2 separate regions of the Homo sapiens genome follow, and region 1 is linked to region 2. The links come from fine-mapping of genetic effects on gene expression. Tissue or cell type: monocytes after LPS. Region 2 holds a variant in brackets; the other region holds the start of a gene. All regions are shown on one strand. Distances are between the middles of the regions.

Region 1 (5,195 bases), 900 kb before region 2:
GAGCTAAGCAGATGATGAGAATGAGGCCCAAATGCCTCAGCCAGGGAAACTCACTGAAAGTGACACTCCAAAACCTGCACTGCAAAGAAGACACAATCGTGGATGCTTTGGAACAGTGGACTTTCCAGGGAATCTAGAAGGACAGTACCAAGCTGTCAGTTAAGAACGGTCCCGTTTCTAGACCCCATGTCTCAAAAGGAGGCTTGCTCACTGACCTAGGACAGCTGGACTTAGTTCAGGGTCGCTGTCCTTGGCAGTCACCATCCTCCGGGCAGTGAGGAGCTGAAAGACGAAGAAAAGCTCCAAGAAGAGGTTTGGTACCAGGTTCTCTAGATAGATACAAAAAGAAAGCCCATGGTATGGGCACCATTTGGAGCCAAGGCTCAGTTCCAAGTGCCTTACCAATTCTCTTACCCATAAGTTCTACAAGTGTCTCCACTCCCGCTCCCTCCGCTCTCACTCACCAGCAATGCACGAGGAGTAAACAAGGGCTACAAGCTCCAGGCGCTGGCGGGAAGACACTCTGGCAGGGTCTGCAGGTTCATCTGTGAGGCTTCCTGTCCGGCTGGGGAGGGGCGACCCCAATTCTGGGGTGGGACAGGTGGGGGTAGGTGACTGCTGCAGCTGCTTAGAGCTATGGAATAAAGAAATTTCATGAGCAGTCAGCTTGGCTTCCCTGCTACGGCCACACTCAGGTCACTCCAGAGAAGATACCAACAGCCCAGGAGACAAACCCAGAGTCCCCAAGAGGGAAATCAATTTCAGGGAAAACCCCTGAAGATCCCCCACAGCGAGGAAACCGATATCCCCAGGAGCGGCCAGGCCATACCGCTCCTTCCTGAGCATCTCTCGCTCCTCTTGCAGACTTCTGCACCCTGGGGGAAGGCCAAGGCCCCAAGGGCTAGTGTCCAGGGCTGAGGGTTGGGAACTGGGGACACAGCTGATTGGGGGTGAGGTGAAGCAGGTCTTGGGCTTGGAGAGTGACCGCTCTTCGCTCACCGGAGTTGGGTTGATCCTGCGAGAAGGCTTCGTCCTGCTGAGAGTAGCCACAGGTTTTTCTCAAATTCCTATCTTCAAACATCTCCCCTCCACCACCGCAACAGCTAGACCTCTTGCCAAAAAACCCCACAAAAACCCTCACCATCACCCCCAGCCTTCTACCCATCCTGGCGCTCCACTGCGGAGCGCCGAGCTCGAATGACTGACTCCCCAGAGCCTTCGTGGTACCCATCTCCTGCATGAGAGCTGAGTCTCACCCTGTAGGGCCGGGGGGAACCGAGCCTACGGGAGGGAACTCCTCCAGGTTGCTGAGGTTTGGCGGATCAGACAGCGTGAGGCTGGGGCGGCTGGGGCTGCCAGAGCCCCTAAGCCTCCGGCCCCCGGCTCCGGGCAGGCTCTCCCCGCTGACCCCCTCCTCCAGGCCGCGGCCTCCACGCTCGCGGGCCGGCCCCGGGCCCCGCCTCCTGCCCCCGCGGCGGGCCAGAGGGGCCTCGGCAGCGGTGCTCTGGGCCTCGGTCGGAGGGAAAAGCTGGCTGCGCGCCCCGCGGCTACCCCGCGGCGGGCCTCCCGGCCTCCCTGGCAAGGCTGCCGAGGCGCCCGGGGTCTTGGCGGGGGTCGGGGGCCCCTGCGGGAGGACGCGGCTGCTCTGCTCCCTCAGGAAGTTCAACAGGAACGGTACGAATTCTTTCCGCAGGGCCCGGAGTGAGCTCAGCGCGGCCGCCTCCCCAGCGTTATCCTAGGGCAGAAGCACAGGTGGAGGGGCGAGAGGGTCAGCCGCCGGCCCGCGGGCCGTGAGCAGCCGGGGCCGTAGGGCGCGCCTCGGGTGGGCGGCCCGGGCAGCGGCGCCCAGTTGGAGTGCACTCGGCCCGGCTGGCAGCCAGGCGCCCTAGAGGAAGGGGACTGGAGGGCTGGACTCCACTGCGGGAACCGGCTTCGAGTCAGACCTGGGGGCGTGTCACCGCTGTTACCTCCGAACCCTGGGTGCTGCGCGCGATCCACCGCACGACGGCTGCGACCGACACCTCTTCTCGCAGCAGCGACTCCAAAACGGCCGCCATCCCGGTCGGGGCGCTCTGGGGCGACTGCGCAGGCGCCGGCGCGCCGCGGGCGGCCAGGGAGGGGCGGGGCCGGCGGCGGGGAACGACCGTTGGGTCGCGGGATGGGGAGGGACCCGGCTGGCGGGGCGGGGCGGAGCCGGCTGTTGCCCAGACCCACGGAGTCAAGGCCTCGCTGAGTCCTCAACCCCGGCCGAGAGGCCGGTTGTTAGGAGGTGAAATGTGGATCACAGCGCCTGGGGAGGCCCACCTTGGCTGCCCGCCCTGGAGCGACCTGAAGGGAGGGATTCGAGCTGGGAGTGGGGCTGCCGCGGGTCGGACGCCCCTCTAGGGAGACCCAGGACCCGGGAGAGAGGTAGAGGGGAGCAGAGACAGCCACCAGCTTCTATCTTCTGCTCTAAGCACATTCTTTCACGAGTTTAAGTTTCCTAGATCCAACTGGCACCACCCCAGAGAAATTATAATCTAATCTTTCATTTTGACTTTGTTCTTCTCAAAGGCCGATTTTTCAATCCCTTGGCCGAGCAGTACCCATCGGCTTTTCAGCGCTCACCATCAACTGACCATTTAGGAAAGAATTATTTCTAGGAGGTTCTTAATAATCCCCAAGCCACAACCCTTAAAGTGCCTCGGGCCACCCTGCACACAGAATTGCTTGTATGTAGCTTTATTTACTTAAGTGGGTTTACATGAGGTTAATATTTCAACTACTTTGCAGTTTAGATGTCAGTAAGCATATCATGATTAGCTTCTGGGAGCTTGAGGTTTGTATTTTTGGGTTTGGTGTTTTTTGTTTTTGTTTTGTTTTTTTTGAGACAGGGTCTTGCTCTGTTGCCCAGGCTGGAGTGCAGTGGCGTGAGCACGGCTCACTGCAGCCTTGGCCTCCTGGGCTCAAGCAATCCTCCCGACTCAGCCTCCCTAGGGCTATAGCCCAGCTAATGTTTTGGCCGGGAGAGGGCAGCAGATCCAAAGTGCTGGGATTATAGGCGTGGGCCACCACGCCCGGCCTGAGTAATTTCTTAATCTCCTTTATTTAATTTTATTTTGAGATGGAGTCTCGCTCTGTCACCCCCGGGGCTGGAATGCAGTGGGAGGCAGAGGTGGGCGGATCACGAGGTCGAGAGATGGAGACCATCCTGGCCAACATGGTGAAACCGTGTCTCTAATAAAAATACAAAAATTAACTGGGCGTGGTGGCACGCGCCTGTAGTCCTAGCTACTGGGGAGGCTGAGGCAGGAGAATCGCTTGAACCTGGGAGGCGGAGGTTGCAGTGATCCAAGATCACGCCACTGCACTCCAGCCTGGGTGACAGAGCGAGACTCCATCTCAAAAACAAAACAAAACAAAAAAACCTGAGAGAGGATTTTGAAGGTTGCTGCTCAGTGACAAATCAAGCAAGGGAATCCAAGCGGAGAAAAACAGATGGCACGAACATTCCATGTCAAACCAAACCAGGAGGGGTGAGGCAGTGCCCTTGTGAATGCCTCCTGAGAGTTGCTCTGGTTCAAAGGAAGGTTACGGGCGGAAGGATGAGGGTGGGGGTGCAGGAATCTCTCTAGTGGCAGAAGGGGTATTTCCTATGGAGAAGGAAAAAGTACCTCCAGCCAGACAGAATAATGGACTAAAAAGGAGCTTTTAATATTTTAATTTTATTACAGGAAAACATCTCCTAACTGCAGGGACACTTAACACCTAGCTTCTATTCAGTCCTGGGCTGCTTTTTCTAGGGAACTTCTAGATGTGGTACTGCATTTACAGTAACACTATCTGCTCCCCGTTGATCTTGTAACATCTGGTGTATTCAATAACTTTATTAAATTAGAAAAATATTTTCCACTTTTGAAATCCAGACCATCACACAAACAGAACTAGATTTTGCATGCGGAATGAATATTTTATTACTAGGTTATAAAAATAAAATACAAAATAATTTTAAAACAGAACTTAAAACACTGTACAAAGCTTTAATATGATACAAATGGGAAAATTAAATAAATAATTACACTTTTATGTACAGGTGGCCTATACAAAAGCACTCCATGTTTCTGCCGATACTCTGTCCTTGGTTGCCTGAGCAAAATTGTATAAAGGGAGCTGCTTGGAGGGGAAAGGAACACAATAAAACGCCTCTGGAGGTATTTCAAAGAGTAGTTTCTCATCTCTCTGATTTCAGGAAGAGGAGAAGAGAGGGAGAGAAAAGTGGAATTATTAAAGTCATCTAACTCATTGGTCTTGTTCAACAAGAAAGAATTCTGGTTTGTGGCTGAATCTGATTTAACAGCTGCCAATAGCTCATTACTTCTAAGATGTATATCTAATTCAAAACTAGATGCTCCCCCCTCCCTCTTTTTTCCCTAAAAGCTGGGAACTTGTAAGTAAATGGCCTAGTGAAATAGACACTGGCTATTTTAGAAAAAGGGTCAGAAGGTAGACCAGGAACTATGTATCAAGGAGAAGTAAGTGAGGCTCAAGCCCAGGCCACCTAGGCTGTGTTTATTCAGTCCACCCAATCCAATGTCAAAGCCCCAAGTGGGCCAGTGTTACCTTTATCTTCCCATCTTTGTATTTCTGAAAGCTTTGTCACCTCAGTGGACTACTTTGGCTGATGAACAGTTCAAATAGAAGATTGTTTTGGAAAAAGTCCCAAGGGCTTTCCCCTTCCTGGGTAGCTCCCTATAAGTCAAATTCAAGTTCTGGTAGCCTTGTTTACCCCTTGTAGGCGAGTGAAGAATGCCCACACAGAGTTCAGATGTGGTGAAATGCTGGGCATTGATTCCTCAGGATTTAAACTGCATATTATTAGAGAAAAAGAGCATCATATGGCAAGGGTAGTCTATATAAAAACTTGGTTTACTCAATGTTTTTAATTAGGCGAGTGAACACTTATGTACATAATATTAAATAATATTAAACTAATAAAAAGAGAGGTAAAATTCCTATCCATTGTTATTGTAAAATTATATCATCAGCAAATTCTATAGTCACATGGGCTCAAAGATCTGCCTCATCCAATCTTGTTCCCTAGGTCAAGGAACCCAGAGCCAGGGTACCTGGGAGGCATGGTCAGCATCGCCAGTGTACATATATTCTGTGCCCATACTACCACTAACGCTTCCAGCTGAAGAGGAGGCAGAAAACCG
Region 2 (5,000 bases):
TCAGGTGATCCACCTGTCTTGGCTTCTGAAACTGCTGGGATTATAGGCATGAGCCACTGTGCCCAGCCTATTCCCATTTTTCTTTTCTTTTTCTTTCTTTCTTTTTTTTTTTTTTTTTTTTTGAGATGGAGTATTGCTCTGTTGCCAGGCTGGAGTACAGTGGCACTATATCGGCTCACTGCAATCTCTGCCTCCCAGATTCAAGCAATTCTCCTGCCTCAGACTCCCGAGTAGCTGGGACTACAGGCGCCTGCCACCACGGCTGGCTAATTTTTGTATTTTTGGTAGATACAGGGTTTCACCATGTTGGCTAGGATGGTCTCGATCTCTTTACCTCATGATCCACCCGCCTTGGCCTCCCAAAGTGCTGGGATTTCAGGGGTGAGCCACCGCGCCCTGCCCCCATTTTTCAAAAGAGGTAACTGAGTCACAGAAACCAAGCTTAACCACTGGAGTGTACTGCTATTTAAAGATGCCTGATGACAGTGTGGTTTGAATTTGCAAAACCCAGAATAAACATGGAACTAGCTGCCCTAACCTCAAGATCAGAGCTAATACCATTCACTATTCTTTTGCTTTCTCTTTCCCTCTCCCTATTGTGTTCTATTTCAGTTTCTTGGAATAGACTGCACTTTTTATATTACTATACTTTGGACAAGCTTCCTGGTCTCTTAGCCAAATTTTCTCCCCTCACCCAGCTGTCCCCAGCTCTGCTTACGAGAAGAACACATGGTACTCCAGGTCCTGACGAGGTGAACGGGTGTACTCTGAGAAGACGTAGACACCAGTCACAGCAAAAATGTAGAAGAAGATGAGCAGCAACATCAAGAGGAAGGTCATGCTCTAGAGGCCATAACTCTCATGTCAGATGTGGGCCAAACTAGGCTGATCTCCACCAACAGCCCAGTCAAGCTCACCTGGCAATCCCCCACCAAACCCTCTCTTGCACTGCTGAACCCAGTCATCTTTGAACCATGGCACCTGTCCCCAGCCCCTTCTCATCCAATAACATTTCACAGGACGTTTCATTGCCTTCTTTGACCCACCCAGATTTCTTTCATATATTTTTTTTTTTTTTAGACGGAGTTTCACTCTGTCGCCTAGGCTAGAGTGCAGTGGCGCAGTCTCGGCTCACTGCAACTTCCGCCTCCCGGGTTCAAGTGATTCTTCTGCCTCAGCCTCCTGAGTAGCTGGGATTACAGGCACACACCACCAAGCCCGGCAATTTTTTTTTTTTTTTTTTTTTTTTTTTGGTATTTTTAGTAGAGACAGGGTTTCACCATGTTGGTCAGGCTGGTCTCGAACTCCTGACCTCATGACCCATCCCCCTCGGCTTCCCAAAGTGCTGGGATTACAGGCGTGAGCCACCGCACCCGGCCAATTTGTTTCATATTCTATGTTAAGCCCTCACATTTATCTACCTTGCCCCCTGCTTTAGCTTGCAACAGTCAAATCACCTTGAGGGCCCTGACCAGGACCAAAATAATAATTTGAATTTGACGGAATTGTGCAAGGAGTTTGAGAGACCTCAGCACCCGGCAGATCCTCAGAAGCTGAAGCCACACCGATTGGCCTGTTACCCCTACCAATACCACAACCTCGGGAAGCAGGGACTGTGGAAAACACACAGGTTATAAGTAAAATACACCCCAAGGCACCCAGGCAGAATTGCAGCTTCTTCATCTTATCCTCTTCATTGTTCCCTGGGCGTTATCCCTTGAATAGCATTCTCTGAGAAGTGCTTACTATTCAGCCTTTCTATATTAAGTTGCTTAAACACTATACTTAAACTTGTTCAGATATAAAAAGGGGGATAAAATTCATGGTTATTTAATTGGGTTGTTGTGGAGCATAAATGAGATAATGTAAGGAAAACACTTAAAATAATGCTTGGCACTTAGTAAGTGCTCAGTAACCGGCAGATGCTCTTGTTGGCATTGATGTTGTAGTTAGTCTACTTTGCTCCTAATACCAACAACTCCTGCAATGATTGATGTTTAGTTTTAGGGAAAAAAAATCAAAAGAAAGAAGTTAAGTAAATTTTTGTTTCTTCCTATTATCATGTTAACTTGTTCTTTCGATTCACCTAGGCACATTCTTCATCCCACTAAACGAACCCTCAGGATCTCTATCCTTACCAACATGGTAACAACAAAGTCAAAGACATTCCAGGCACTCTTCCAGAAAACAGAAAAGTTGGATAGCCACTTAAGAAGGATCTCCAGGATGAAAATAAGCAAGATAAACCAAGCTGCCACCTCCAAGGTCAGCTTCAATGGCCATAGTTTGGTATTTGTGGATTCCAGCAATTCTGTGA[A/G]GATAGAGCAAAGGAGGAATAAAAGTTAAGGAAGCTGGAAACCGAATGATGGAGAATGAACACACTTATAAACCACAGTTTTGCCCACTACTGTTCCATTTTTCTTCACACTGTGTTAAGAGTTAAGAGTTTCTCTTCTTAACACTGTTGCTTCAACCTGTGAAATACAGGGAAGGACAGAATTGACCATAAAACACAGCCACAACCAATCTGTTCATATAGTTATGTCTGCCCAGCTACAAGTCACTTGCGATCCACTCTGGGGCTCACACAGCTACTAAGAGAGTACTCTCTTTAATTACCCCTACCTCCAAACCCCACCCCCATCTACTGTACTGTTATCTCAGTCCCAAAGTTCACAAGAAAGCAATGGGTCTTGAGAACAGAATGAAAATACAGGGCCATGATATCTGAACTACTTTATAACGAATGTAGAAACAAGCCACAATCATTAGGGTATATCGAATTATAACAATAAATCACTTGGTTCTGTTAGCTTTCTTTTAAAACTTTTCCTTTCTTCCCTGCCTAAAATTTTGCTCTGCAAAGCAAACTGAATGCAAATTTCCTCTCTAGAAACCTATTATTTACTTTTGTTTTGTTTTGTTTTTTGTTTTTTGTTTTTTTTTTTGAGATGGAGTTTCGCTCTTGTTGCCCAGGCTGGAGTGCAATGGTGCGATCTTGTCTCACTGCAACCTCCACCTCCGGGGTTCAAGCAATTCTCCTGCCTCAGCCTTCCGAGTAGCTGGGATTACAGGCATGCACCACCACACCCGGCTAATTTTGTATTTTCAGTAGAGATGGGGTTTCTCCATGTTGAGGCTGGTCTCAAACTCCTGACCTCAGGTGATCCGCCCACCTCAGCCTCCCAAAGTGCTGGGATTATAGGCGTGAGCCACCACACCTGGCCGAAACCTATTATTTACTAATTGCTATTCCTTAATTCATTGCCTTTCTCTTTCAACCTTCTTCATCTCTTTTATACAATGAATGGATGTATGCCATACCCTTGGAAAAAAAAAAAACACTCAGATTATAATAGGCTTAAGAGCTAAATAGAAATCAACATTGTGGTGCTCTGGCTTTAAAGTCATCCTGATGCTGAACTGAATCCAGACAAAAAGAACAGAACAATACTTCAATCATCCCTAGAATTTTACAGAGGTTGGCCCCTTCTAAAAACCAATGGAGTTACGCTATACTTATTTCTATGCTTGTTTTGAGAGAGAATCTCACTCTGTCACCCAGGCTGGAGGAGTGCAGTTGCATAATCACGGTTCACGGAAGCCTGGCTCTTCCGGGCTCAAGAGCCTCTGGGTAACTGGGACCACAGGCACATGTCACCATGCCCAGCTAATTTTTTCTTTAAATTACTTGTAGAGATGGGGTCTCCCTATGCTGCCCAGGTTGGCCTCAAACTGCTGGGCTAAAGCGATCCGCCCGCCTTGGTCTCCCAAAGTGCTGGGGTTATAGGCATGAGCCACTGCACCCAGCACTCCTATGCTTATTTAGGCTCTGTACTTCTGTAAGTTTTTCTTTCACGTAAGTTTCTCTAAGACGGACAATTTTTCACATTTTAACATACATGAAATTAGGATGCTTTTTTTTTTTTCTTTGAGACACAGTCTCGCTCTGTTGCCAAGATGGAGTGCAGTGGTGCAATCTCAGCTCACTGCAACCTCCGCCTCCTGGGTTCAAGCGATTCTCCTGCCTCAGCCTCCCAAGTAGCTGGGACTACAGACATGCGCCACCATGCCCAGCTAATTTTTGTATTTTTGGTAGAGACAGGGTTTCACCATGTTGGCCAGGATGGTCTCCATCTCTAGACCTCGTGATCTGCCCACCTCGGCCTCCCAAAGTGAGGATGCATTTTACAACCAGCGATGTGTCCCAGTTTAATTGAGCATGATTTTTATTTCTTATTGGTAAACAGTGAATTTCACCATTGATGACAGCTTAAATTCAATAAAATACAAAATTTTTTCACTTAACAATAAATTCTAGCTCTCAGGAGCATGGGATTATATAATTAGAAAGAGCTGAGGACCACATTTGTGGCTGGAAAATAGAATGCTATAATTTTTATTCAGTTTTTGCCCTTGCAAAACAGGAACCCAAACAGAGCAATGAAGTAAAATAAGGCTCTTGTAAAGCAGAATATAGTTTTGAGTAGTTTAAAATAGTTTAAGTAGGGAAGTCCAAATTATAGAAGCAGTAGCACTTTTACTCTCTGGAAAAATGAATAATTTTATAGAAGCTAAACAAACCCAAGGAAGTTCAGAGGAACGAATAGCAGAAATTGCCTCAGCAGCACAGAATGTGCAGAAGTGACTGCCTCCACTCTACATCAAGTAATGTGTCCTCTCTGAAGATGAAAAATAACTTTTTAAAATTCTTGGAATTTTTCAGGCTGCTATAGCAAGGCAAAGGAGTCTTAATGGAAATAGAGACCAGGAGCCCAGTGAAGTCTACCCAGGAATCTTAGCCAGTGAAGTGAAGTAGCAGTGAACATCTATGCTTCAATATTCTTCTCAGGGTGACAGACAGTAGCCATTTGATCAAGCAAGTCAGGCAAATATATAATTCTGTTTTACAGGGTAGAGTTCACCATGAACAGTCATCTATTGCTACTCCCTATTCTAGAAAAACAACAGTAGGTCACCTCACAGAATACCAGGTAAAT

What was found. PIP is the estimated chance that this variant, and not a neighbour inherited with it, causes the effect.
Region 1: CDAN1 starts here. The variant in region 2 is fine-mapped to the expression of CDAN1 in monocytes after LPS (Quach 2016, PIP 0.93).

Annotation. Positions count from the first base shown.
Region 1 is chr15:42,735,046-42,740,240 of GRCh38, forward strand. CDAN1 (codanin 1) reads right to left here and starts at 2,083. Exons shown (of 28, transcript NM_138477.4): 1 at 1,968-2,083; 2 at 1,257-1,735; 3 at 830-1,033; 4 at 465-634; 5 at 216-329; 6 at 55-133. The coding sequence starts at 2,057. TTBK2 (tau tubulin kinase 2) reads right to left here. Exons shown (of 15, transcript NM_173500.4): 15 at 3,685-5,195. It overlaps TTBK2-AS1 (TTBK2 antisense RNA 1), which reads left to right and starts at 4,073. Exons shown (of 3, transcript NR_186317.1): 1 at 4,073-4,190. RefSeq lists silencers at 1,310-1,599, 1,690-1,829, 2,020-2,269.
Region 2 is chr15:43,638,186-43,643,185 of GRCh38, forward strand. CATSPER2 (cation channel sperm associated 2) reads right to left here. Exons shown (of 13, transcript NM_172095.4): 5 at 2,139-2,311; 6 at 1,458-1,613; 7 at 719-843. It also overlaps the pseudogene PPIP5K1P1-CATSPER2. Among named protein-coding and RNA genes, the nearest start is that of CATSPER2, 8.2 kb to the right of the region's middle. RefSeq lists enhancers at 311-440, 491-1,020. The variant A/G (reference allele first, on the strand shown) is at 2,318.